Regions from separate parts of the Homo sapiens genome. Here all the other regions are linked to region 3. Evidence: fine-mapped expression QTL. A gene starts in region 3. Each other region holds a variant in brackets. All regions are shown on one strand. Distances are between the middles of the regions. Region 1 overlaps ZDHHC14 (zDHHC palmitoyltransferase 14). Region 2 overlaps ZDHHC14 (zDHHC palmitoyltransferase 14). Region 3 holds the start of ZDHHC14 (zDHHC palmitoyltransferase 14). Region 4 overlaps ZDHHC14 (zDHHC palmitoyltransferase 14). Region 5 overlaps ZDHHC14 (zDHHC palmitoyltransferase 14).

What was found. PIP is the estimated chance that this variant, and not a neighbour inherited with it, causes the effect.
Region 1: its variant is fine-mapped to the expression of ZDHHC14 in whole blood (TOPMed, PIP above 0.99).
Region 2: its variant is fine-mapped to the expression of ZDHHC14 in whole blood (INTERVAL, PIP above 0.99). The same link has a PIP of 0.9 or more in lung.
Region 4: its variant is fine-mapped to the expression of ZDHHC14 in pancreas (GTEx, PIP 0.94).
Region 5: its variant is fine-mapped to the expression of ZDHHC14 in whole blood (TOPMed, PIP above 0.99).

What each region holds. Positions count from the first base shown.
Region 1 is chr6:157,541,711-157,546,812 of GRCh38, reverse strand. It overlaps ZDHHC14 (zDHHC palmitoyltransferase 14), which reads right to left. Exons shown (of 9, transcript NM_024630.3): 2 at 4,068-4,228. Among named protein-coding and RNA genes, the nearest start is that of MIR3692, 15 kb to the right of the region's middle. The variant A/G (reference allele first, on the strand shown) is at 2,280.
Region 2 is chr6:157,671,428-157,676,529 of GRCh38, reverse strand. ZDHHC14 (zDHHC palmitoyltransferase 14) reads right to left here. Exons shown (of 9, transcript NM_024630.3): 9 at 1-3,806. The coding sequence ends at 3,408. Among named protein-coding and RNA genes, the nearest start is that of MIR3692, 140 kb to the right of the region's middle. The variant T/A (reference allele first, on the strand shown) is at 3,000.
Region 3 is chr6:157,379,214-157,384,315 of GRCh38, reverse strand. It overlaps ZDHHC14 (zDHHC palmitoyltransferase 14), which reads right to left and starts at 3,126. Exons shown (of 9, transcript NM_024630.3): 1 at 2,050-3,126. The coding sequence starts at 2,294. LOC124901446 reads left to right here and starts at 3,225. Exons shown (of 1, transcript XM_047419644.1): 1 at 3,225-5,002. The coding sequence starts at 3,615. The coding sequence ends at 4,505. RefSeq lists enhancers at 2,069-2,208, 2,967-3,578, 4,190-4,802 and silencers at 2,299-2,348, 2,859-3,748, 3,909-3,988.
Region 4 is chr6:157,402,809-157,407,910 of GRCh38, reverse strand. The region is part of intron 1 of ZDHHC14 (zDHHC palmitoyltransferase 14); the gene reads right to left. Among named protein-coding and RNA genes, the nearest start is that of ZDHHC14, 24 kb to the right of the region's middle. The variant C/A (reference allele first, on the strand shown) is at 2,123.
Region 5 is chr6:157,556,803-157,561,904 of GRCh38, reverse strand. The region is part of intron 2 of ZDHHC14 (zDHHC palmitoyltransferase 14); the gene reads right to left. Among named protein-coding and RNA genes, the nearest start is that of MIR3692, 30 kb to the right of the region's middle. RefSeq lists enhancers at 1-7, 1-90, 368-497, 4,401-5,102, 4,885-5,102. The variant G/A (reference allele first, on the strand shown) is at 2,865.

The sequences.
Region 1 (5,102 bases), 160 kb before region 3:
TTTGATCCCTGGAAAGGTCTATCCCTAATAGAAATTCAACACTTTGATCCTGTGATTTCTAGTACAGTTTTTGTCATTTTTTTCTAACCCCAAATCAGTTGCTTACGATCAGATCATCCTTGGGTGAACTGTAAAAACTGAGTTTCTGAAACTGAAGTTTCCAAGCAAGCCTCCAGTGACCCCAGCTTCCCTGGCCCCCTGCTGCTATTCTTTGATGTCTTTTTAGCTGCACCCTAAGTCATCGGGAACATTCTTTCAGAAGAGAGAAGTGTAAGGCATTTCAAGAGCCTTGAAACAGACTCTGAAGCCCAGAGCCCTCCTCCTCCCCACCTACTCCTCTCAGAAGTTTGAAGACAGGGGAAAGCTGTTTAAATCCTTGGCAAATCTTCAATAAATTACTCAGATGGCTGATTCCAAGGGGCCATTATGGGCTTCTATAAGGAAGAGATCTACAACGGATAATTAGAATGAATAACTCTAACCATAAAAAGTTTCCAAATCTAATTGTTCATTTTTCTTTCTTTAGCCAGATAGCACAACATAAATGTGTTAAGATTTCATTGAAACAACCTTATCTTCCAAAGCCAAGTAGTATACGGGAGGACTCCTTATGAAGGGTTAGATCAGTGATGGAAATGAGCCCAGCTTGCAGGTGCCTGCACCCCTTCCTCAGCCTGGAGGAGGTACAGCTAAGCTGGCAGGCAGCGGTCCCAAAGACATTGTACCAGCTCTGCCATTTATTCCTGTCACGCTTAGGTAGCTTTTTATGAGAACGTACATTTGTAGAAGGTGGAGAGAAAACTGAGTGGGAAAAGAGAAGAATTAGACAAAACAAAAAACGATCATTTACTACACATCTACAATGTGCCAGGCACTTTTCCTATAATTGCTAATCCTGAAAAGAACCTCAAAAGATCCATGCCATTACTCCTATTTCACAGATAAGAACACAGAGGGATAGAGTTTAGAAAACTGCACCGCTCACCTAAGTCACGCAACTAGAGAAAGGGTGAGCCAGGATTCAAACCCATGTCTGAGGCCCTCCAAAGCCCTCTCCTTCCTCTTTTCCTTCTGCTTCTTCCACCCCATCTTTTTCCTCTCTCCCTTCCCACCCTCCTTCTACTTTTTTTTTTCTTTTTTTAGGGGGAGTCTCCCCTGTCGCCCAGGCTGGTGTGCAGTGGCGTGATCTCGGCTGCAAGCTCTGCCTCCCGGGTTCATGCCATTCTCCTGCCTCAGCCTCCCGAGTAGCTGGGACTACAAGTGTGTGCCACCACACCCGGCTAATTTTTTTTGTATTTTTAGTAGAGACGGGGTTTCACTGTGTTAGCCAGGATGATCTCGATCTCCTGACCTCGTGATCTGCCTGCCTCGGCCTCCCAAAGTGCTGGGATTACAGGCGTGAGCCACTGCGCCCGGCCTCCTCCTCCTTTTTTTTTTACATCTTCATAGAGGTATAATTTATGTACCACAGCAGTCACCATAGAAAGTGTGCAATTCAGTGACTTGTAGTGAATTTATTGCATTGTGCAACCATCACCACGACTTAATTTTAGACCATGTTCATAATCCCAACAAGCTCCCTCATGTCATGTGCAGTTAACCTGCACTCCTACCCTCCCAGCCCCAGGAAATCACTAATCTCCTTTCTGTCTGTAAAGATTTGTGCTTTCTTTGACATTTTATACAAATGGAATCACACAGTACATAGTCTTTTGTATCTGGCTTCTTTCCCTTAGCAAATGTCTTTAATGTCCATGTTGTAGCCTGTATCAATACTTTTCTTCCCTTTTATTGCTTCATGGAATCCAATTGTATGGATATACCACATATGGATCATCAGTTCATCCTCTGATGGACATCTGGGTTGTTAGGTTTCATGCAGCTATGAATATTCATATACAAGTCCTTGTGTGGACATATCTAGGAGTGGAGTTGCTGGGTCATATAGTAATGGTGTTTAGCTTTTGGAGAATTCTGAGAAACTGCTTTCCAAAGTGGATGTACCATTTTACAATCCCACCAGTAATGTACAAGGGTTCCAGTTTCTCCAAATCATCACCAGCATTTGTCATTGTCAGTCTTTTTGATTAGTGCCATCCTAGAGGGTGTGAAGTGGCATCTCACTATTCTATTTTTTGGTTGTTGTTGTTGTTGTTGTTGTTTGACACAGAGTTTTGCTCTGTTGCCCAGGCTGGAGTGCAGTGGCACCATCTTGGCTCACTGCAACCCTCCGCCTCCTGGGTTCAAGCGATTCTCCTGCGTCAGCCTCCCCAGTAGCT[A/G]GGACTACAGGCTCGCACCACCACACCCTGCCAATTTTTTTTATTTTTAGTAGAGATGGGGTTTCACCAGGTTGGCCAGGCTGGTCTCAAACTCCTGACCTCAGGTGATCCTCCCACCTTGACCTCCCAAAGTGCTGGGATTACAGGCATGAGCCACCGTGCCCTGCCTCATCCACTTTGTAAGAAAGGCAGAAAGTCTGTTCCTAATCGTGCTGATTTTGCAGATGCACCTGCACTAACCTGGAGATGGGGATCACTGCAGGAAACTGCATCACCCCCAGTATGGGAGCTGGGCCCTTGCACTGAGAAGAGGATTTTCAAGTTACCTGCTCATATATTGTAGGCATAAACCATACAGTTTTGAAGGAAACTAGGTTTGACTTCCCTCTCTCTCCTCAATGATATGAGGAGCTGGAAAGAACAAGGTCTGAAATCTGGAAACCTGGGTTCTAGGCTCCAGTTCTGCCACTTTCACCCATTTAAGCCCCTCTTGGGGGCTTTGTTTCCTTATCTGTAAAATGGGTGTAATAATAAAGTTTTCCTTACTAGGTGGCTTAGATGTGGAAAAAAATGCAGTGATAGCCATGGATGGGCCTGACAAACGATTAAAGTGCTACAAAATGTGAGCCTTAAAATTATGCACTAGCATGCCCTGTCTTGGAATCCCATGATGCAGGGGCTAAGAAAGAGATTGTCTGCCCACTGCTGCTTCTCCCTCCCCCTCCTTCCTACCTCAGGACACAAGACAGCTGCAGTCTAGCAGATGACACCACACACTCCACACACTCCCATTTTACTGCTCCCTTTCCAGGCAGCAGGGATGAAGGATGAAGGCAGATGTCGAGAGAAGGACAAAGCTGTGCTTTAGTACTTGGGGAATGGTAGGACCAGAATAGGCACTTTTCAGCAAGATCCACAGCTCTATCTTCTTACACTGTAGACAGGGAGGTCCCTCCAGCTTTAGTGAAGGCTGCAAAGGAAAGTCCATAGAATAGGAGGAATCCTGGAAGAGAATTATCTCTGCCAAGTGATTTTTCAGGCCTAAACATTATGTTCACACCAAGTCATCACAGCTCCTCTGCCATGCTTGTGAAATTTACCAAAGCACCACAGCAAAGCTATACATTCACAATCACAAACTTTTAAGAGCAAGAAAAAGCACTCCTTTTAATTAAAAAAAAAAAACTGTAAAAGTTTGTTGTGTAAGGGATTAGGATCTGTTTTAATATCTTCAAAATGGGTTGTAATAAACTTTAGTATAGGTTTTAATATCTAAGGAAAAATAAAGCTATTCATCTCAATACATATCACAGATACATGTTTATTATACCTAAATAAAGGAAATTCTCAATCCTGGCCTGGATAAACAAGAAAGCTGCCTAAGATGTAACTTTCCTAGATTTATATCATGGAAACTGGTCATGCTCCAAGGATTGCAAAAGGGAGAAAGGGCAGCAACCTACAACTGTAATCTCTCGGGGTGGAGGCTGCTTAGTAGAGTGGAATCAAACACTTGGGTTTCAAAGAAACATCAGAAGCACAGCTCACACTGATGCTTTGCTCGAGTGGGCCTGCAGTCCTGCCTCCAGGATACCTGTCCCTCCAGCCTTATATCCCACCTCTTCTTCAGCTCATCCTGCCCACCCAGCGAGCTAAGGAACGCTGACTTCTGGCCTCCTTCCTTCCCAGCGCTCAGCTCCTCCTGCACAGCCCTCGGCCTGCCGTCCCCACTGTAGCTGGGCCCAGGCGGGAAGTGACCAGAGGCCATGGGCAGACTTTCAGTGTTACCTATTTGCCTTTCCAGATCGGCGGCTTCATCAGGCGTGGCTCGTGGGAGGACTCCGGGGTCGCTGAAGCTGGTGCGGAGCAGGGTCCCCATCACAAAGAAGAACAGGATGCCAGCGACTGCAGGGATGGCAGGGGTGATTTTCACCGCCAGGTACGGACAGCTGCCGACAGGTTGGACAGACCGGAGAGAAGGGGAAAAGAAAGGAAATACAATGTTAGGAATCAACAGTAAGCAGTCTTTATCTTCTAAGAAATCAAAAGCTTATTTGGAGGAGAGAAATTGATTTCCATTAAAAATTCATCTATGTGAAAGATTTACGTTTGGGGAGGTCTGCAGTTCTGTCTTACAGACAATTGAACCCCCACTCCCCAGTATGACGCCCAAGCCCTCTGCTCTTACAGGAAGATGCTGGCAGAAGAATGAAAATAGTCCTGCTTGTATAATCAGTCTAAGACGCACAGAGCTTGTATAAATAGACACGTGTCCTCTGTGCTGTAAACACGGTTCGGGAGTCTATGAGATCCCCCTGCCCTCCCCTGGGATTACATAACAGAAGAAGACACCAATTTAGAATGATCTTCATGAGAGCCAGCCTTTCCCACTTGGGTCAAATGACTCGGGAACTTTCAGCCAGCACCAAACGCTGAGGACTGTACACACACTTTCAAAGGGCAAGAAACCAATTTTCCATGTTCTGGAGGTAATCTATTCCAAAGTGAATGAGCTATGGAAATGGACTTGCAGGCAGGTTTCGGAAGAAGATTTAAGGGATTTCAGCAGCTGGAATAGAATCATCTCATGCTTTTCCAGAGGGCATCTGAGCTATCAATGGATGAACATGGCCCAACTCTTAACTCGACCTTTTCACTGCTGTCAGTCTGACATGCTGACGTGAAGCAGGGATTGTTATGAGTCAGGGAGAAGTGCCACTGGGACAGACTAAACTCTACACGAGCCAGCCTGGGAACCAGTGTCTGACATTTGGTCTCAGATCCAGGTATTCTAGAGCTGGAGCAGTTCTTACCGTGGCCCCT
Region 2 (5,102 bases), 290 kb before region 3:
TGGCCCATCAGGTCTCCGCAGGAACATGGCTCATAAAATGGGTTTGCTCCTCACTTGGAACCACAGCTGGCAATCCTAGACAGAGCCGGTGAAGGCCGCAGTAAGCTGGGGGGTGGCGTGGAACTCTGCAAAGACTCCTCCCTTGTGCCATTCTGGGCCAGAACAGAGATTTCGCATTTTGCTGGCTTAGGGTGGGGACATGGCATTGTCCTCACAGGCTGAAATCATCACATTTGAAAGCTGGAACGAGCATCTTTTGGTTGGGCATAACGCAACTGCTGGGCCAATTTCTGCAGAACGGAGTGACAGGTCACTGTGCCCTCCTGGATGCAGTCTGTCTGCCACCTTCCTGCAGCATCCCCCTGCTTCCTGGGGCCCTCCCGGATGCAGGCTTTGTGCCGCCTTCCTGCAGCATCCCCACTTCCTGGGGCCCTCCTGGATGCAGGCTGTCTGCCACCTTCCTGCAGCATCCGCCTGCTTCCTGGGGACCAGGGCACTCACGCTCAGTTCAGCCTTCAAGTGCCGGGAAGCCTGTGGTTCCCTGGAGCACTCCTGGGAGAACGAACGCAGATGAATTTTTAAACAGCAGAATGAGTGTGTGTTTGTGTGTGTTTGATAATGGTCCAAGCTTTAATAGCATGGTAAAATATTTATTTTACTTTTTATAGCTAGCATGTAATCAATCTCTAACACACTGAAAGAAGTTAGAAACACCAACGTCTACTCAGCCACAGCTAGAAGGAACCATTCAACATTTATAAACATAAGTATTTATATTTATGTACATGTCACATATATGTTCGTGGGAAATGCAGAGCCATCACCTCGCCAGGTGAGCTGCCCCTCCGACCATCCCTCCTGACAAACAGAAGTGGGCGCCCCAGGGGGCATCATCGCTCATTCCTCTGATGCTGGGTTTCTTTTTCAAGCCACAGAGGACAGGGCTGTGGGCTTCTCTCTGGTTTTGGTTTTTAAGACATTAATTATCTAGCAAATTGGCCCATTCAAGTTAATCTCTCTCTTGACCCTGAATAGCCTTGATTCACTTCACCAAAATTCCCAGTCCCCTATTGGATAAATGATGCCAAGTGTGTGCCAGGGACAGGGTTGGAGGTGGGGAAATTGATAATAAATATTAAGTAAATATCCATTATGTGAAGACAAGTGAGTCGTGATCCTGGCTTCTGGGAATTTTTCACAGTGAGGTGGGAAGAAGGGCTGGTCACAGGAGAGTGGCAACCACTGAGTTAGGAAATGTTAGAAGCGGGAGGCCTCTGAAGACCATGATCTTGCTTTCCAGGGGAATGAGCTGAGAATGGACTGGGCCACACGTGGGACCGGAGTGAGGGCTAAGCCGGATTCGCGGTCACCCATGGAGCACCGTTCTCATCAGGGCCAACTCCTTCCTGGGGCCTCTGGGGAGCAGGTGGAAGAAAGCAAGGAGCAGAGACGGTTTGGGAAGTTGTGGAAGCTCCTTTGTGGGGCTGTCACTTTGGGCTCACAGGTAGCGTGGACAAGGAGAATCCCTGTGAGTTGGTGCCTGTGAGCGTGTGCGGTTGTGTAAGGAGGGCACTGCCCCATGAATTACACATTGCAGGTGGGTACAAGTAGTTAGGTGGTTCAGAAAATCAAAAATGGCTACATAGAATGGACCTATTCCATTTTCTATACGTGCATGCAGCATGACAATAAAGATGGCTCGAAGACATCACAGTGCAAGAACTCTGCAGGCCCTTTCAGCATGAATTATTTTGTGACCTGTGAATTGCCTTCATTCCAAATAAAACTTGTGTGCTTTTCTTTTTCCTATCTTCTTTTCTTTTATATAAAATGGCAACTCTTTCTCAGGAGTAATAGCCTTTTTCCATAAATGCAAATCACTTGGGTTACTTGTATCATTGGTCAATGTGTCTTGTCTTTCATATGGTTATAAGGAGCAAGGCCATGGCTTTGAACTTGAGTAGCTTTAGCTGTTAGATTTATGGTCTGGAAAGAAGCCAGGAGAGGAGTTGCTGTGTCCCCTGTGGCTGCCCCCATAGTGACACACTCCCTAAGTCCAGAGCCAGTTCGTTCCCTTCTAGGTGACCAATGAAAGTGAACAAAGTGGTCATTTTCTTAATTTCATTCTGATCAGTGTCTAGGAAGGATGATGACCTACATGATCTCAGCTTAGACTGTAAGCCGATTTCTCCTCCTCATTTTCTGATACCTTTACTAGGACCTCAAGTTGCACTTCTGGGATTGAGTGACACGTTAACACAGAAGGAAGCCCAGAAGACGCCCGACAGAACCTTCTCCCTGAGCGTCCCCTCCCCTCTCCCTACTTCCGATCAACTGTTGCACGGCAAACTGCAAACGTAGAGCAAATTCCACTAAGATGGTGTCAAAAAGAGATAATTAAAGAAAATAAATGATGGAAAACTTGCCTCTTATCTAAGAAATTATTCTATAAATATCTCCCAGTTCAAAGATTTGACTTTTGGTTGTCTGGGGACCATTCCTCGCTAGGGACATTTCAAGAAAAACTCTCCCCATCTGGATGACTTTGTTTTCATTTATGCTATTAAGGATAACCGTACGCAGATCCAAAATAACAGAGGACGTCATTTTATTGGCTGTCCACGGGAAGTTTCATCACACACGGAGGTGAAGACTGTGGGGGTTGTGGCACACAATATCTCAACACGAGACCTCATCGAGCGGCCAAACAGAAGGTGAAGTGACACCCGACACGACGGAACCCCAGCCGCCCTCTGCAGCCCCGGTGCCACCTCTCCACAGACGCCTCAGCCCAGTAAGCTGAGTGATGACACTGTCCATTAGTCTCAGTTCGTTGCACTGTCTTCCAACAAAACAGCACTTGAAAATTCACAAAATTAAAAAAAGAAAAAGAAAGCAGCACTTCCTTGGAAATAGCAACACCACTGTAACACAGACGGCAGCGTGGCATGCAGATCCACACCTGGTCGGTTTTTTCCCTTTAGGATTTTTTTTTTTTT[T/A]AATTAACAAATGGAATGGCAGGTCTGTTTCAAATATTAGTAGCATAACACATAAGTGCAATTGCAGTCTGGCCACAAGCGTCAGAAGCCTTCCGTGTGTCTGTCACAAGGGCGGGCAGACACACTCCGATTCCACCCCTGGAGGGTCACCAAAAGAAAGCAGCCACTTCTCTATTTCCATTGTTGTCAAAGCACTCAGGTTGGGGAAGAAAATTCAAATGAAACCAAGCTCTCAGCATCCGGGGCCAGCCACCCTGTGCCATCCTAAGTGGTCTCTGTACCCCAGACCTGGGGCTGTCATCTCCACCGTGGCATTGGCTGGGAAAGTCGCTGTGGGACACACCCCTCCGCTCACTCCTGCTGCCCATGGAGGAGCCTCTGGTGTCCCCCGGCCTGGGGCCATGTGGGTCACACGGAGCTGAGCTTCACCAGGCCGCGCACAGAGTCCTCATGCAGGGAGTCCTGGCTGGCCAGGCCCAGCACGTGCATGGTGCGGCTGTGCGCCAGGGGGCTGCCCGCCGCCAGTAGCCTGGGGGGCGAGGGCGCCTCATCGGGCGTCAGGAACTGGTGGCCCATGTGCTCATCTTTCCGGGGCATCACGTCCGCGAGCGTGGCCTCGGCGAGGTTGGGCATGGAGGCGGGCGGTGTGGGCGGGCCCAGTGTGAGGCTGGCGCAGGGCGTGCCCAGGCCAGGCTTCCCGGGCAGGTGCAGCTCGTCGCTGGTGAGGCTGGGCTCGCTCTGCAGCAGGGGCGTGGCTGCAGCCTGCAAAACGAATTTGGTGCTCTGAATGCACTGGTCTTGGTCGCACTGGAGAGCGGGAGGCGCCAGCAAAGAGAAGGTGGAGAGGAGGGGGCAGAGGTGGGGAGGGACAGGGATGGGGACAGGGCACGGGCGGGGAGGGTGGGGTGCGAGAAGAGAGAAACCGTTAGTGACACCTCAGTCAGCCAGGCAGGGAGCGCCTACAGTGGTCCAGGTGCATTGGGAGAGACACCCAGCGCCTGGTGCTGCAATTGCCTCTGCTCAAATGAAGTCACCACGGGTGCCCAGTCATAACATGCAGCCACTGGTTATGAAGCCAGTGGTCTTGGTTCCCAATTTAAAGGACATAATTAAAAAAATCTCTTGGACAGAGTCACAGGCCATCTACAGCAGTGGGTGGCTGTTTCTTGTATGCTGAAAACCATTTTTTAAACCACATTGTTTTAAAAATACAGGAGTTGTACACCCATGTTCATAGCAATGTTATTGATAGTAAGTCAAAAGTCAAAAGTGACTCAAGTGTCCACTGATGGATGACAGCAGGGACAAGGTGCGGTGTAGACACACAGTGTTACTGATTCAGCCTTAAAAAGGAAGTGCATTCGGACACATCCACGAGATGGGTGGACCTTGAGGAAAGCATGCTAAGTGAAACAAGCCAGTCACAAAAAGACGAATAACTGTGTGATTCCACTCAAACAAGGTCCCTGGAGGGTCATGTTCTTAGAGAGAAGGAAGAATGGTGGCTGCTGGGGCGGGAGGAAGAGGGAGCTGGTGTTTAAGGCATGCAGAGTTCCAGCCATGGAAGATGAAGAAGCCCTGGAGATGGGTGGTAGTGGTGGTTGCAGAACAACATCAACGGACTTAATACTACTGAACTTATACTTACAAATGGTTAAAGTGGCAAATATTATGCCATGTCTATTTTACCACCAAAAAAAGAAAAGACTGTTTGGTAAAAGCCTAGAATTCCCCACTGCTAAATTTCCAACAGCTTCAAGAGCCATTCCCGAAGCCTCTGTGGTCTGAGAATGCCCACGTTTGAGAAGACGTTTCCTATTCTTCCACGCGTTCTTAAGTCACATGATATCTGCCTCGTGTCCTCTGTTTCCCTTCGCTCACTGGGCAAAGAAGATAGTGTAAGCACATTTCCAGGCTATGCGACAGGCACCCCTGATAGCTCCGCAAACCCTCTCCTTGAACTATGGGCAAGTTTCAGAACAGCTAGAAGAGACTTAACAGGACTTATAAATCTTCAACTTGAGCCTGTGCGGTACCTTCTCAGTGAGATTCAGGAGCAGTGTTTTGATGGGAAGGAGGAACAGACATGGATATTAGGTGAGC
Region 3 (5,102 bases):
TTTGAATGAAGAAAATAAAAGATGTTAAGTAATAACTGGGGGGATCCCTAAGCATACAGTGGGGACTTGGGTATATACAGAAAATGAAATATTCATCATCCTCCATGGAGCACACTTGTGGCTGAAGCTCTGCAACAGAATCACAAAATTAACCCATTTTCTCCACAGTTAAAATCGCTAAAAAGAGCAAAAGTGCCAATTTGGATCTGTTCAAGATTTTTTTTAAAAAACTGTAGGAACACAGTTAATACTCTGCAACTAGAGGACCACCTGTAACTAAATTCACCATTAGAGAGATGGCATTTCTGTTAAACCACATGGCATCACGCTTCCAGTGCCAGTGTTCATCCTAACAGATAACGTAAACTCATGGGGAACCTCTATGCCCCTTCTTCCAGTTTCCAAGGTCTGTAAGGACAAGAGGCTGCTCTCAATGGGGGCCCATGGGAGCAACAGCAGCATGAGTAGAGTGTGTCTCCCTGCCACTCTGAATGCCTGTTCACACCCTTCCCCTCCCGTCCACAGGTCTCCCCACTGACTCTACCTACTAGTGTCAAACAGACACAGAACCTAAACATCAAGGGGGACCCGGGAACTGCACATACCATCGGAAATGGGGAAGAGGAGTTGTGTGTGAGAAGGACTGGGGAAGGGGAATTCGCTTAAATCAGAGATCCTTCTCATCGCCTGGTCTAACTCAGTCCTCTTAAAACTGCTAATCAGCGCACAGTGTCCAGATACAAAACGTTTCTCCTGAGAGTCAGAGGGCTTTGAGCGACAAGTATTACGTTGTCAAGAGATCATTCATTTCCAATTGAGACAGCATTTGGAAGAGCAAAAGCCAGGCACAAAATTAGAGCCTATTAATCCTAATCAGAAACAAAAGTAAATAAATTCAAAAGGTTTTAATTGAGCCTACCCAACAGGAGGAGGCGGAGACTGAAGGAGTATCAAGCCCAATAATAACCAGGATTTGGGAAGCCCAAAGAAGAGCTCCCTATAAATATATTGCTTTCTTTAAATTCTGAGGGGAAAAAAGTAACTCCACCTTTCATTGAACATAGGATACCAGAAATTACATAAGGAGTTGCATTCCAAATGTTGGATGCAAAAAAAGCAACCAAAATTGATTGGAATGTGGTTTAACTGCTTTATCTAATCACTGCTAATAAATAAGAAGACCTTTCATTAGTTGGCAGGAGGACAGTTGCTACTGGCCAATTTGATTTTCCTGAAAACGGTGAAGACTTGCATGCGCTTTTTATCCCCCCAGATATAATCCCTGAAGTCCAGACTGTTTCTGGAATCGGAAGTTGTCACGTAGTGTCATCCTCTTCCTTAACAGACCTAAGGTCTCCTTTCACATGTTCCCAAATTGTTTGTTTTGGACACCTTTTATTGCAACCTTTTTGAAAGTGAAGAGTTTAGAAACCTCATGGCAAATAAGAAATTGTTAATCCAGAGTGAGCATGTAGGAGGCTGGAGAATGCAATGATCTATCCAGGGCACACTAGGCAGCCGACACTTTGAAACCTGAAATAGCCAAGATTCCTCAATTATTCGTCGAAGTTACATGGGAGATTCAGTCAACTGAGCTTAAGAAGATGCCCTATATGTTGTCAGCAAGGGGGAAAAAGTCAGTTCCATGTATCCCTGACTTAGGAATCTATCGCACCCCACCTTCCCACGGCAGGCTACATCTGGGCTGATTTGCTGGGTCCCCAAACTCGGTAGAGAGCGCCCCAAGGATCAGGGACCGGCGGCCCCACCTGCTGGGTCCCATCCGCCACCTGGATTGGCAAGGCCTGGCCCCCCTTGCAAGTGGACCCCTTCCCTCCCTGCTCCCAGAAGCCCAGCCCAGAACGGCGTTCTTTCCGGGGGCCCAAAAGCAATCAGACCTTTAAAAGAAAAAAGAGGGAGCGCAGACTGGCATTATATAACAATTTACAGTAGATAAGACTTCTAGAAAACGAAAGCAGCCCGAGGAGGGGCGGGGGACAGGGGAGACCAGGGGAGTGCGGCGTCGGGGGAGCGGTCGCCACCACTTACTCGAAGGCGAAGAAGAGTCCGCTAGTGACCAGGATGAGGACGAGCGTCAGGTAGAAGACGCCCGTCTGCCGGGCCATCATGATCCTCCCGTTACAGAAGAACTTGTTTCTTCCCGGGAACACCTCCCATTTCCTCCGGGCCGCGATTTTCTTCTTCTTGTGGGGCGACTCCATGGGGGAGGAGCTGTGGGTGCTGATCTGGCTGTACTCGCAGTCTTTCATGGGCCCGCCGCCGCCGGGAGGCATCCACGAGGGCAGCCGGCTGGGGGCGCACACCCCCAGGAGCCCCCCGGCCGCGCGGGCCCCGCCGAGCCACGACCGCCGCCGGCCGCCCGGCCGCCCCCCGAGCCGCGGCGCCGCGGCCCCTACACGGGCTCCCGGCTCGGCGACAACTTTGCCGAGGACACCCAGGTTAACCCTCCGGGGAGCCCAACTGTCATAGCAGAATCCCCGCTCCGTGAGGGGACGGCGCTGGTCCGCAGCCCGCGGCAGCACTCCTCCGTCGCTTCCAGCCCGCGTCCCGGGGCGCGGGGCTCAGCCCGGCCGGCCCCCGGGTCGCCGAGCGCCCGCCCCCTCGCGCGGCTGCCCGCTCGGCCCCGCAGCCCCCGGCTCCCCGGCCGCGCCTCGGCTCTGGCCCGCCGACCCCCGAGCACTGCGCCCCGAGGGGACACGAGGCGGCGGCCCCGGCGCCGGCTTCCTCGGGAGCCACTTCTGCGGCGCGGCCAGGTTGGGTCCACTCCTTCCTCCGGCAGCGGATCCTCCCAGGAGAGAGCGCTGGCGACTGGGCGGCCGCGCGCGGCACCGGCAACCCCTCCCAGGGGTGGGGACAACCACGCACGTTTTTCTGTCAGGAGCCTCTCGGCGAGAGCCGGGGCGCCGCTCGCACCGCGACCCGGTGTCGCTGCGCCTGGCAGCCTAGTCGAATCCGCGGCCCCCGCGCGGGGATGCGCGGGCCGAGGGCGGCGGCGGCTCGCGGGCCGCGCGGCGAGGGCTCCCTTGCTCCCTCCTACCCGGAGGAAGCGGCCCCGGCGCGAGGAGGGCCGCGGGGACACAGCACAGACACTTGTTTGCAAGGCTCAGCCCGGCGCGCGCGCGGCGCTCCGAGTGGGTCCGCCTCCTCCGGGCCGGGTGGGCGGTGGCCTCGCGCCTCACCCGCGGCTCCTCCTCCTGCTCCTCCTCCTCCTCGCCCGCGAAGCCAGGGCACCGGCGCAGCGAGATTCCAGCCCCAGCCCCCTCGGGCGGGCGCCCTGGGGTGTGGAAGGCGCGGGGCTCCCTGTGGCATCGCCCAAGTAGGGATGGGGTCGGGCGCCCGCGGCCCCGCCGCGCAGTGCGCTCCTGGCCGACTTCAGTCCGTCTCGCGGCTTCTTCCGGGTTTATCCCGCGCAGCAGCTGCCGCCTCGGGACACGCTCATTCCCACGGCCACCGGCAAGCCACTCCTGGCGACTCCCCGGGACCTGAGGAGCCGCGGCGCGGAGGTGACCCTCCCCGGCCTGCGCCTCCCTTCTTCCTCCTCCCCAGCTGGGCGCGTGGTCGCGTCGCCCGGGGACTCTGGTGATGCCCGAGAAATGGGCTGGGGGTGCCGGGTGCCAGGATGGGGTGGGGCGGCCCTAGGCCGGCCTGACTTCGGGACCGGGCTGCGGGCGAGGGTCTCGGGGCCCGGCTCGGCCGGCTTCCGGGCCGAGAAAGAAGGGCAGAGGAAGCGGTCAGGGTCCCCTCCGGCCCCGGCCTCCCTCCCGGAGTATAAGCCCTTGGAGGCCAGGTTTTGGGTTGCTGCCGCCCAGCTCTTTCGGTCTCCACTTCTCCCCACGGACGTTTACAGCTGCTCGCTTTATTTCTCCCTCCATTCCCCCGTGGAGCCCCCTCGGCAGCGGAGGGGTCGCGTGCTTCTCCTCTCCCGCCTGCGCCTCCCCCCTTCCCACCCGACAGCCCAGGAGGAGCTGCGGGCGCGGCCCTGGGACGGCCGGAGCCTGGGGCTTCTGCTCGCTCGCGCCCTCCCAGGCGTTGCCGCGGGTCCGAGCCCCCGCAGAGGTGGGCATAGCCCCGGGGCCGCAGAAAACGAAGGCAGCTGGGCAGGGATGCTCAATTTCCCGAGCCCCACTTTCCTTTCACAGCCCACTGGGATGTGTAGTTCTTCCGCCCGCAGGCCTGCGCCGAGGAGAAGCACGACTCGGGGCCTTAGAAACTACAAGTCCCTGCATCCCCCGCGACAAGGGCAGGAGAGGCGTGGTGCTGGGCGTTCTGGGGCTAGGTGGTGGGAGATGGGAACCAACAAAGGGGGTTGTGGGGAACGGTGCCTTCTCTGTACTGGGCAGTTTGCACGTTACACATGTTCTTTGTCTAATCTTCGCCGGAACCCGGTGAGGCATTATTGTATCCAGCTTAGAGAAAGCTTAACTACTGGCCAAACATCACAAAGCTCCCAAGTAGTAGAGATGGCATCGAACCCAGAGCCCTAAGTATGTCCCTTACAAAGCGTGCCTCAGTGAGGAGTGTCGAAGGGGGATGAGATTGGCTTATCCAAGAGGGCCAGTTGGGAGGAGCTGTGGTAAGGAAAAAGTGATGGGAATAGCAATTAGAGTATGACATGCAATTACAAGGAGTTTTGAATACAAGTGAAATTTACAGGGGTCCATTCCAAAGCCGGTTAGAGTCTAGGGAGAATGGATCTTAAGCACACGATAATAATTGGGTTTTAATTATTTTAGATATTGTATGAGAGACAAGCATATTACAGGGACAATTAAGTATTTGTGGCTGGACTAGTTTTAAAAAACCAACTGGAAAGCTTCATACATTTCAAGTGAAAGCTCTCATATGCTTTCCTGTCCTTTAGCTAATGAGATCAACGGGGTATTATTCTTATTCTGTTTATTGCAAGCACCTTTTCTGTGGGTGTCCAATTAATATAATAGATCCATTGATTTGATGGCATTAAAAAAGACTCCCACTCTTATTCTCAATGAAACCGAATTTTTCTGGCATTATGGTTATGCTTTTAAAAAGTCCTTCCTTGTCTGTTAGAGATATGTACTAAAGTATCTGCCAGCGAAATA
Region 4 (5,102 bases), 24 kb before region 3:
CCTGCTTATTTTACTTCTGAGAAGTTCATGGTAAGTTTACTTAGCCAGGTGACCCATCCAAGCAAGGTTTATTTAGTTCTAAGTTCACATGCCATCCTAATCAACCTGGAATAAATATGGAGCATGAGGACAGGCCAACAAGAAGTGTCTGTCCCATCAGACTACAATGAAATGAACATATAAGCACCGAGTTCTGCCCTTTGAAGATGAAGGCACACCAATTTCATTGTAATCACATGGCCAAAGCACCAACAGGAATTTTCAAAAGAGACCACCTTTTTTTAATTCTCTTTTACTTTACAGCTGAGACAATTGCTGTGTCTTCTCAGATGAAAAGTGCCTTGGTTTGGGCAGTCTACAAAAATGATTTGGGGACTTTTATTTGCTAATGGGAAGACTACCAAGAGTTAGTTTTCCTTCTAGGGGACTGCTGGGAAGTTTTCTTGTGTCCAGTAAATCTTGGCTTAACAGGAAAGCAAAATTTAAGAAGAGTATAAAACAGCTGCGACTTTCATCCCCAATGAATCCTAGGAGGCAGAGGGTTCCCTACCCAGAGACCACCTCTGCGCTGCTGCCTATACACAGCGGCCATGTAGGAAAGGGGACGGCAGGGTCCCACTCACTCCCTTCCCAGGGGCGGGGCTACAGGGTGGCCTGGTGTGGAAACCCACCAGGGACGCCAGCAGCTCTGCAACCCAGCAGCCCAAGTCCGTATCTCAGTTCTGCTGCTTACTAGGTGGGCGGCTGTGGACTGGTCACCCACCCTCTTTGAGCCACGAAACCACCTACATTATAGGGTCATTTGTTGTAAGGACTAGTGAGACGTATAAAATTCCTAGCCCATAATGTGTGTCCATTACATTTATAGAAATTCTTTTATACATCCAGGGCACTTCTAATCCAAGGTTGAGAACGGCAATGCTAAAATAAAAGCCGGTGCATGTCTTAATGCCTCGTAGCTGGAGCCTGACAAGCAAGACTCTATCCCCCTTCTCACTGCCTCTCTGACCCGCAGACAAAGAGAGGCTCTTCTGCATGTCAGGCAATTAGCTCAGTGAGGACTCAGCATTGCTGAAGAAATGGAGAAGAGAGGACTGGAGAAAAAGGAAGCAAGGCTGCATGTTCAGCTGCGCGGTTTGTTCACTGAACAAGGGCTTTACAAGTAACGGCACCATTTACACTGTAGACCTCATGGAATTAGATCCTTAGTTTGAAATTTTTCCAGCAGAGGGAAATGTCTTATTTTAATAAAAATATGTATATAATGATAATTTTCTGACAGCAGAAATAAACCATTTTGAAGAAGGAGTGACTTTCTTACATTTACCTGAAGGTGCCCCATAAGTTAGCAATGGAGCAGTCAGAACCCTGCTGGGGAACCCCTGGCTTAACCAGATATTTCTTCTGAAGCTGGGAATACTCCACTAGCTCAGCAAGCCAAATTCCATCCAGCGCTCTCTGAGATAATATTTTTCTGCAATCATATTCAACCAAAGGTACGATTCAATGTCCTAATCTATCAACATCATAACCTCAATCTGAGAATTATGATCCTACTTATAGCAATACCTGAGGAGACATCACATGTTCAAGAATAGCCAAACAGATACACGGATCCCTTCGACTTTCAAATCCTTTCAACCTTCTTTCTCCCTCCTGTGCACCTCTCAGCACCCGGTCCTCCAGGATTCCAAGCTCTGAATCACCCCACTCCCTCCCCAACTGCAGCTTCCTGTTCAGGGCCTCAGGCCTGGTGGGAAAGTGATGAGCTAATCCACGCTCTGGAGCTGATACGATATAAACTTCATGCATTACCTCTCCCGCTAGGAATTAATATTTTTAAAAGCATGCCCTCAAAAGGACAAGGTTTAACTCAAACAAATGATTGTCAAGGGTGGCATTATCCTATTTAGAAGGGGCAACAAAGATGGAAAAATTGGGGAGGTCCGAGCAGGGGTGGGGGATGGGGAATAACCATCCAGAATTCCCCATTTATAGCCCATCCATGATTTAATCTTCATGTTAGCACACCCGCTCCATCACACTAAATCATTACAAATTCATGACAAAATGTCTTTGCTTGCATAGCACTTTATTTTTAAGGCCAGTCATTACATCAAAG[C/A]GCTAACTAGAGCCTCACTTATAAAGTGACAAGCAGTTAGTCAATTATAATAAAGAATCACTTATAATTGAGTAAATCATTGCTCAAAATACAGTTGCTTATGCAAAAATGCACCATGATTATTATTAACAGTACAACATATTTTCCACATCATCATTACCATTATTATTAATATCAACCCTTGGAGAGGTTTTTCTGACCAAAATTTCCAGACTTTAAGAGGAAAGAATATTTTTTTTAAAAAAAATTTTGAGCTCGGCCAGGCACGGTGGCTCACGCCTGTAATCCCAGCACTTTGGGAGGCCAAGGCGGGTGGATCACGAGGTCAGGAGATCGAGACCATCCTGGCCAACACAGTGAAACCCCGTCTCTACTAAAAATACAAAAAATTAGCCAGGCGTGGTGGCGGGTGCCTGTAGTACCAGCTACTTGGGAGGCTGAGGCAGGAGAATAGTGTGAACCCAGGAGGCGGAGCTTGCAGTGAACCGAGATCGCGCCACTGCATTCCAGCCTGGGCGAGACAGCGAGACTCCATCTCAAAAAAAAGAGCTCACCTGGGGGAGGTTTTGCGCTGGATCTTTTGGCGGTGCAAAAAAGTTCCCAGATGGGTTTCTCTCCTTGTTTCACATTTCTGAATTTAGACCCTAACATAAAATATTCCTGAGCTACTTAGAATATATATTTTTAATGAGCAGAAAAAAATAAATAAAACGGGAGCTTCAGCCCTGTTTCTCTTTACCCACTGAGGTTGAAATCCACCACTTCTGAAGGCATCCCTGTAAATGTTCTGAATGGGACCTGGGAGGGCTGCTTTTCTTACCCATTGCTTCTAATTTACTTGCATATCCTTTTTCCTGAAATGTCAGTAGCGCATAAGGAATCCATTCATTAACTCTTAACTCCTAATAAGAAAATAGTCAATGGCTAAAGAGCTTATGAGGAAGAGCTGAAATATAAACAAGCAAACTAAAAAGTTTTGTAATGCTATTTTAAACATTTTTCTCTAAATCTAAAATATTCCAAAATTAAAAAATATATATTTAAAAACAAGTTATCTAACCAAAGACAAGGACCCAGCTTCCATTCAGCATCTATGAACCAAGCACAGTGCCACCTGCCCCAGGGACTTTCTGTCCTTGACTCATTGCTAGGAAACGGTCAACAGCTATTTTTATCCCCTCAAATGGGCACTTTAGAGAGACAGGAGAGACCCTCTCCCTAAAGCAACTCCCAAGTATCCACTAAGGCTTCTGTCACCACTGGGGAGTCTTATCAAAGCAAAGGATGTTGAATAAAGGCCCTAGGAATTAGTTGAGGAGGACATAAATTATTTTTCAGAAAAGAGTCATTTTCCGGCCGGGAACAGTGGCTCACACCTGTAATCCCAGCACTTTGGGAGGCTGAGATGAGGGGATCACCTGAAGTCAGGGGTTCGAGACCAGTCTGGCCAACATGGAAAAACCCCACCTCTACGAAAAACAAAAATTAGCCGGACATGGTGGCACACACTTGTAGTCCCAGCTACTCAGGAGGCTGAGGCAGGAGAACCACTTGAACCTGGGAGGTGGAGGTTGCAGTGAGCCGAGATCACACCACTGCACTCCAGCCTGGGTGACAGAGCGAGACTCTCTCAAAAATAAATAAATAAATAGAAAGCCACTTTCCATGTTCAACGTATTCTATTTTTGTACAATAGACTCCAAAGATATATGGCACTGAGTTTTCTCATCTGTAAAATGGAACTAATAACAGTACCAACTATGGGGGAAGTGTGTGGGTTAAGTAAGCTACCAGCCCTTAGCCAGCACCTGGCTTGTGCAGGCAGGCCCCACTGGGAAAAGTCCTCCCGTTTGTGTGCCCACCATGCTCAGCACCTGCCAAGGCACCTGCTGGTGTTGGTTTAGCAGCAGCCGCAGTGGGTCTGCCCTCCTGCAGGCGGGTCCATGAGGCTTGCCACTTCTGGACTGCCTTTCACGCTTCCTGACACCGGTGGGTGGCAGCGTCTATGTTATGGTGTCACATTAGCTAAGGAGATCATACTTGCTAAACTAAGCTAAGCTAATGAGCTCTGCTCAGCTAATCAGCTCTACAGAAATCAGCCTTCTTTTTTAGTGAATAGGCAGCCCCTAAAGTTAATTTGTAGGTTGGTTGTTTGAAACTGGGAATGTGTCTTCCCAAAGAAACAATGTGACAAATGAAGACAGAGTTCTCAGGCCGGCCCTAAACCCTTTTCTAATGCTTAAGGCAGAGAACAATAGTGCAGGGAATAATTGTACTGGAGTTTAGGGGCTGTGGGTCCATGGTAGGGTACAGGAAGAAAGCAACTGGCAGCCTTCCCCTTTCCCAGGTGCATAGGTTGAGTAAGGGTAAAACATTGAAGAAAATAATAAAGAAAATAAACATCAGTGACTATTTCATTTCAACCCAACTAAATGACCACAAATTTCACAAAATATATGCTTTCATTCATAACCTAGCAGGTTATTTCGTAGGTTATTGTTCCAGCTTGTGGAGCATGACAATAGTATTTGCTGAAAGGGACAAAACAAAGAAATTCTGTTTAAAACCCCTTTCCCATCCAAGAGTGCTTGTTAGAAATTCAATTTACATTTTCTCTGATGTGCTAACATCTTTAATGAGAGCAGGTGCTCTAAAATAAAGCCAAATCCATGAACTCTGGTGAAAATTAGCATAATTTTTTTATTGTACAATGCAACAAGTCCAGTTCAGAAGGCAACAGAAGGTATATCGCCAGGCTGGGCATGGTGGCTCATGCCTGTAATCCCAGCACTTTGGGAGGCAGATGCGGGCGGATCACCTGAGGTGGCCAGTTCGAGACCAGCCTGGCCAGAATGGTGAAATGCCATCTATACTAAAAATAAAAAAATTTAAAAACTAGCCAGGTGTGCTGGTGCACACCTGTAATCTCAGCTACTTGGGAGGCTGAGGCAGGAGAATTGCTTGAACCCAGGAGGCGGAG
Region 5 (5,102 bases), 180 kb before region 3:
AGTGGCTCACACCTGTAATCCCAGCACTTTGGGAGGCCAACATGGTGAAAACCCCACTTATCTACAAAAAATACAAAAAATAGCCGGGTGTGGTGGTGCACACCTATAATCCCAGCTACTTGGGAGGTGGAGGCAGAATCACTTGAAACCAGGAGGTGGAGGTTAAAGTGAGCCATGATCACGCCACTGCACTCCAGGCTGGGTGACAACAGTGAAACTCCATCTCAAATAAATAAATAAATTCAACTCAACAATTCAAGAGGTCTGGGTGAGAGCACCTGCTCTGTGCCAGGTGTGCGTGTATAGTTTCTGTTTCCTAATTATAAACTGAGGGTGGCTGCTTTGTCATTTTTGTCCCCCATGTGTATCTGAGCGCCGGGACAGCAGGTCTCACATGCGCGCCCGTCGGACACTCTACCTGCTGAGTCAGAATTTCCAGGGGAAGGTGCTCACTTGTATATGTATACATTTTATTACTGAAAATAATACACACGGTAAGAAAAAAAGCAAGCAGGTAAACATTTCCAACCTCCACGGGATTCTATTCTGCACTACGATGGCAGCCTTCAGCCTAGACCGTGTCCTGGCACGTGCCAGCTGCTCAGCAGGTGTTTGATGAAAACTCAGCATGGCCTCTGAGCTTTGTCCCTGGCCCTGACCCCAGCAAGGCATGCTTCTTCCACACACGGGATAGATTGTTTTCAATGAAGCAGAGTGAATGTCGTTCTCAGGTGTAGTTGCAAGAAGCCACACTCAGCAATGCTCTCTGAGGCGATTTCCAATAAAGGACCGCCTTGCACAGGGCAGCTAACACCCCCACGCTCTGAGGACCTGGGCTCCCCGAAATGTCCTTCTGCACTCTGCATTTAAATGCTGACTATTTTTTGGTTTTAGTTTCTTATGGGCTTCCATTCCAAACAACTCATTACAGTCTTGTTCAATTTCTTCTTTCTCATGTTCTAGTGGGTTCGTGATTAGACACGCCACGCCTCATAATGTTGTGCTTGGATAAGCAATCTGCTATTTTCACAGCTTCTTCAGGTTAATGCATCCGTTCCTCATAATGCTTCTGTGAGTCAGGCAAGGCCGTGGGATCCCATTATCCAGATGAAAACACAAAGCCCCTAGAGAGAATTCGTGATTTGCCAAGGCCAAGGCAATGAGTAAGAAGTACTGCTTAATAAATGTTTGCTGAATGCATATCTATTAATGCTAGAGTTTATGTAATGACATTTACTGATTTTTTTTCTTCTAATTATAAAGGTAACACATGCTCATCATAGGGAATATCAGAAACGTACAGAGAAAAAAACTAAAATTACTTGCCAGTCCAATCACAAAAAAAAACTTGTTTATATTTCCTTATAATTCCTATATATATTAAGATCCCAATGTACATCCAATTTTGTATTTTGCATATTTTCATTGAAATTGTATAAGGATAACTTTTATAAGCCATTAGATATCTTTGATATCAATATTTTAAGACGTTCTAACAACGTGGCGTTTACAGAAGCAGATTGCAAAGGTGATTCACGAGGACGTGGTGGTTGGCCATCTCTCTGGGATAAGTGGTCTTCAGCCGGGCACCTGCTGCCCCACAGGCTTTTGAAGAAGGTGTACTGTAGCTGTTGTGTAGGCAACTGATGTGGCAACAGTCGGCCCCGCTTCCTGGCTGACACGCTCTTCTCCAGGACAGCTTTGCTCCCCAGCAAGTGCAGCAAAAATTCACTCCAGAATCAGTCACTTGCCTCTTTCCGTGGGCATGACTTTAGAGCCATTGGCTTTAGAGCTGAGTTGGCCACCACCCTGTGCCTGCATGAGTGGAAAGGTATAGTGTAATTCATCATAGACGTATAGTGTAATTCGTGTATCCATTTCCCTCCTGGTATGCATAGAAATTGCTTCTACTTCCTTTACACTATTATAAATAACTCTATCATGAACATCTTCATGTTTATTTTCAAGTAAGGTTTCTATTTTGCTCCCTGCAGCCCTGTCCATGGGGGCCTATTTCAACTTCTTTCACAGTGAATTTTTTCCATCATTTTATTATTTTGGTTCTTCATGTTTATTTCTAAAACTTGACACAATGTAGAAAGACAGCTCCTAATTCTCTCTCTGTAAATCCAGACGTTTCAGAGCTTTCCTTCCAGACTCTTTTCTGGACAAAACATTTATAATGGGTCCAACTCCAAAATAGTATTCATGACAACCTGGAGCTTGAAGTGGGGAAAAACAAAACAGTGAAAACAATGAATGGAGTATGTCTTTAACTGAGAATGAGAAGAAGTGCCAGGAAACATGAGCATGCTGTTATTCCAGGAAGATGCCCTTCAAGATGGCAGGGTGGCTGGGCTCTCCTTGGGAGACCTGAGGGCAGTTCCAGCTTGAGCGGATTCTTTCCACTCATGCAGGCACAGGGTGGTGGCCAACTCAGCTCTAAAGCCAATGGCTCTAAAGTCATGCCCACGGAAAGAGGCAAGTGACTGATTCTGGAGTGAATTTTTGCTGCACTTGCTGGGGAGCAAAGCTGTCCTGGAGAAGAGCGCGTCAGCCAGGAAGCGGGGCCGACTGTTGCCACATCAGCTGCCCACGCAATAGCTACAGTACACCTGCTTCAGAAGCCTGTGGGGCAGCAGGTTCCCGGCTAAAGCCCACTTGTCCCAGAGAGATGGCCGACCACCACATCCTCGTGAATCACCTTTGCAATCTGCTTCTGTAATCACCATCAGTCTCTCTGTAGTCATAATTGTCAAAGTGTGCAAATAGTTATTAAAATATTGATTAAAGAAAACCAACAACCATTTATCATCATGGAAGAGTGGTTGTTAACTGCTTTTATCTCGGCAGAGCTTCATGGG[G/A]AGCTTGAAAAAGCTCATTGTTTGTGTGTTTTGAGCTGTAAGAGTTGGGAAGTGTGATTAGACTCAAAGGGCTCACTTTCATTTGTATTAGAGAGCTGGGGGGAAATCCACCCTCCGAGGTTGGGGGCTGAGCAGCTGTGCCTGCAAGTCCTGCTTCCAGATGCTTCTCCCCTAGAAAGTTCCTACAGCAGGGAAGAGGAATCTCTGATCTACATTACTTGAACTTTGTTTTATTGTTTGTTTGCTTTTTTTTTTTTACCACCAAAGTTCACTTGGTGATTTTTGCAAAATGCCATCCCAATCATTTTTGTTTTAGTAATGACTCCTTACAACCACCCTGTGCACTGTCAAGTGGAAAAACAGAATCATAAGGGCCTGAAATGAGGATCCCAAACAGAAGACATAAAACCAAAAACACAATTCTGAGTCTTTCATTGCTTTTGCCTGAATCCAATCTTTCTTTACTGATGGGCCATTGCTTTTCTTATATTAGAAATTCCTCCTCTCCACAAAATTGGATTCCATGTTTGCACCAGAGTCATTAGTTTTGTTTTCCTCTAGACTTGGTAACAGCTGGGTGTCAGCCCTCTCGATTGGCTACTCTTGTCACTGAACGGCCTACCTGTGGGCGCTCTGGGTGATCCATGGCTCTTGAACAGTTTCCCTGTGTAATGCAGACTAGCCAGGTCAGAAATGAACCATCAGAATACCAGGCATCTGTCAAAAGGGGATCAGGGGGACATGAATGTCACCTGGCTCAGAGTAATTATCAGCCATTTCTGGGAATGGCAGCATGTCGGTTGAGGAGTTTAGATCTATGCTGTCCAAGGTGCTGGCCACTGTCTGCAGGGGGCTCTTGGGCACACATATTGTGGCTAGATCTCAAAGATTTAGTACAAAAAAAGAGAATGTAACATATCTCAATACTTTAAATATCTTTACATATTGATTACTTTTCAAATGATCATACTCCCAATAACTGGGCTAAATAAAACATACTATTAAAGTGAACTTCACCTGCTTCTTTTTACTATTATACAGTGGCTGCTGGAAAATTTACCATGTGTGGCTTGCATGTGTGGCTCACATTATAGACTACTGGACAGCGCTGGCTTGGCCAATCAAAATCATTCATTGGAAATCAGGGGAAATTCACTATTTATCCCAATAAGGGTGACGGAAGTGAGAGCAGTCCCCAGTACTCTGCCCGGATTGCACAGCATGGGCCTCCCACAGGGGAGTGGCCGCCATTCCTTTGCTAGTCTATTTGCTTGGGAGCACTGAGCTGAGAGCCATCTATTGCTCACACTCCTCTCAGTGGTTACAGAAATGAAACGAGGAAGTCTGCAGATAGCAATGGACCCAGCTGACAAGAGGTGGACCACAAACCCCTTCCTTGTCTTGAAGTTATTCTTAGAGCTAAATTTGCAAATAAGGACAACCAAAGTCTTGCCCCTAAAATAACGTTTTGTTTTCATCTCATTCTTCCATCTAACGCATGCTGGACACATCTAACCAACGACTCACCTCTGCCGAATGTGAAAATCAACTGTGCACTTTCTGTCCATGTCTATAAAATCCATATATATTATAGGATGAGCCATTGGAGACTAAAATCCTAACATGGCAAAAGTCAAGTTTCTTTTCCCTTCTATCAGAACAGGCACCCCTACCAATCCTGACGCCTGGCAGAACCCTCCCAGAGCCACCAGCCTGGCACAGGTCCTCTGCCCGCCCGTGGTGCTGGCCCTGCCCCTCTGTTTAATTTGGCTGCAATTTCCCACTCTGCCCTGACCTAGTCACCACTAGCAAATCCTCCTCTCCTGCTACAGCGTGCGAGAGGCTGTGCTAGGCCCGCAGGTGCAATATTTCATGTCATTCTCCGAGCAGCCCGGCAGTTCAGGTGGTGCTATTTTGCCCCTGGTTCAGAGAAGGTGACTGCAGCTGGAGGGCTGAGCGGCCTCCCCAGGACACAGCCCGGAGTGGCATGGTCTGGTCCAGGCTCTCGGCCTTTCCCTCGTGGAGAAAGAGGACTGAGTCCTCCCTCAGTGTCTCTTGGAGGGATCCCTCTGCGCTCCAGTTCCCTGATACAGGCCTGGCCTCATCTCTAACCCGAGCCCCTCAGTGCCCGCAACTCTTCCTCCTCATCAGCCCCACCTCTCACTGGCTTCTCCACCAGAGTCAGCACTCTTCAGCTCGCCTGGAACCCGCCCGGGCCTGTCCTTCAGCTGGTGGCAG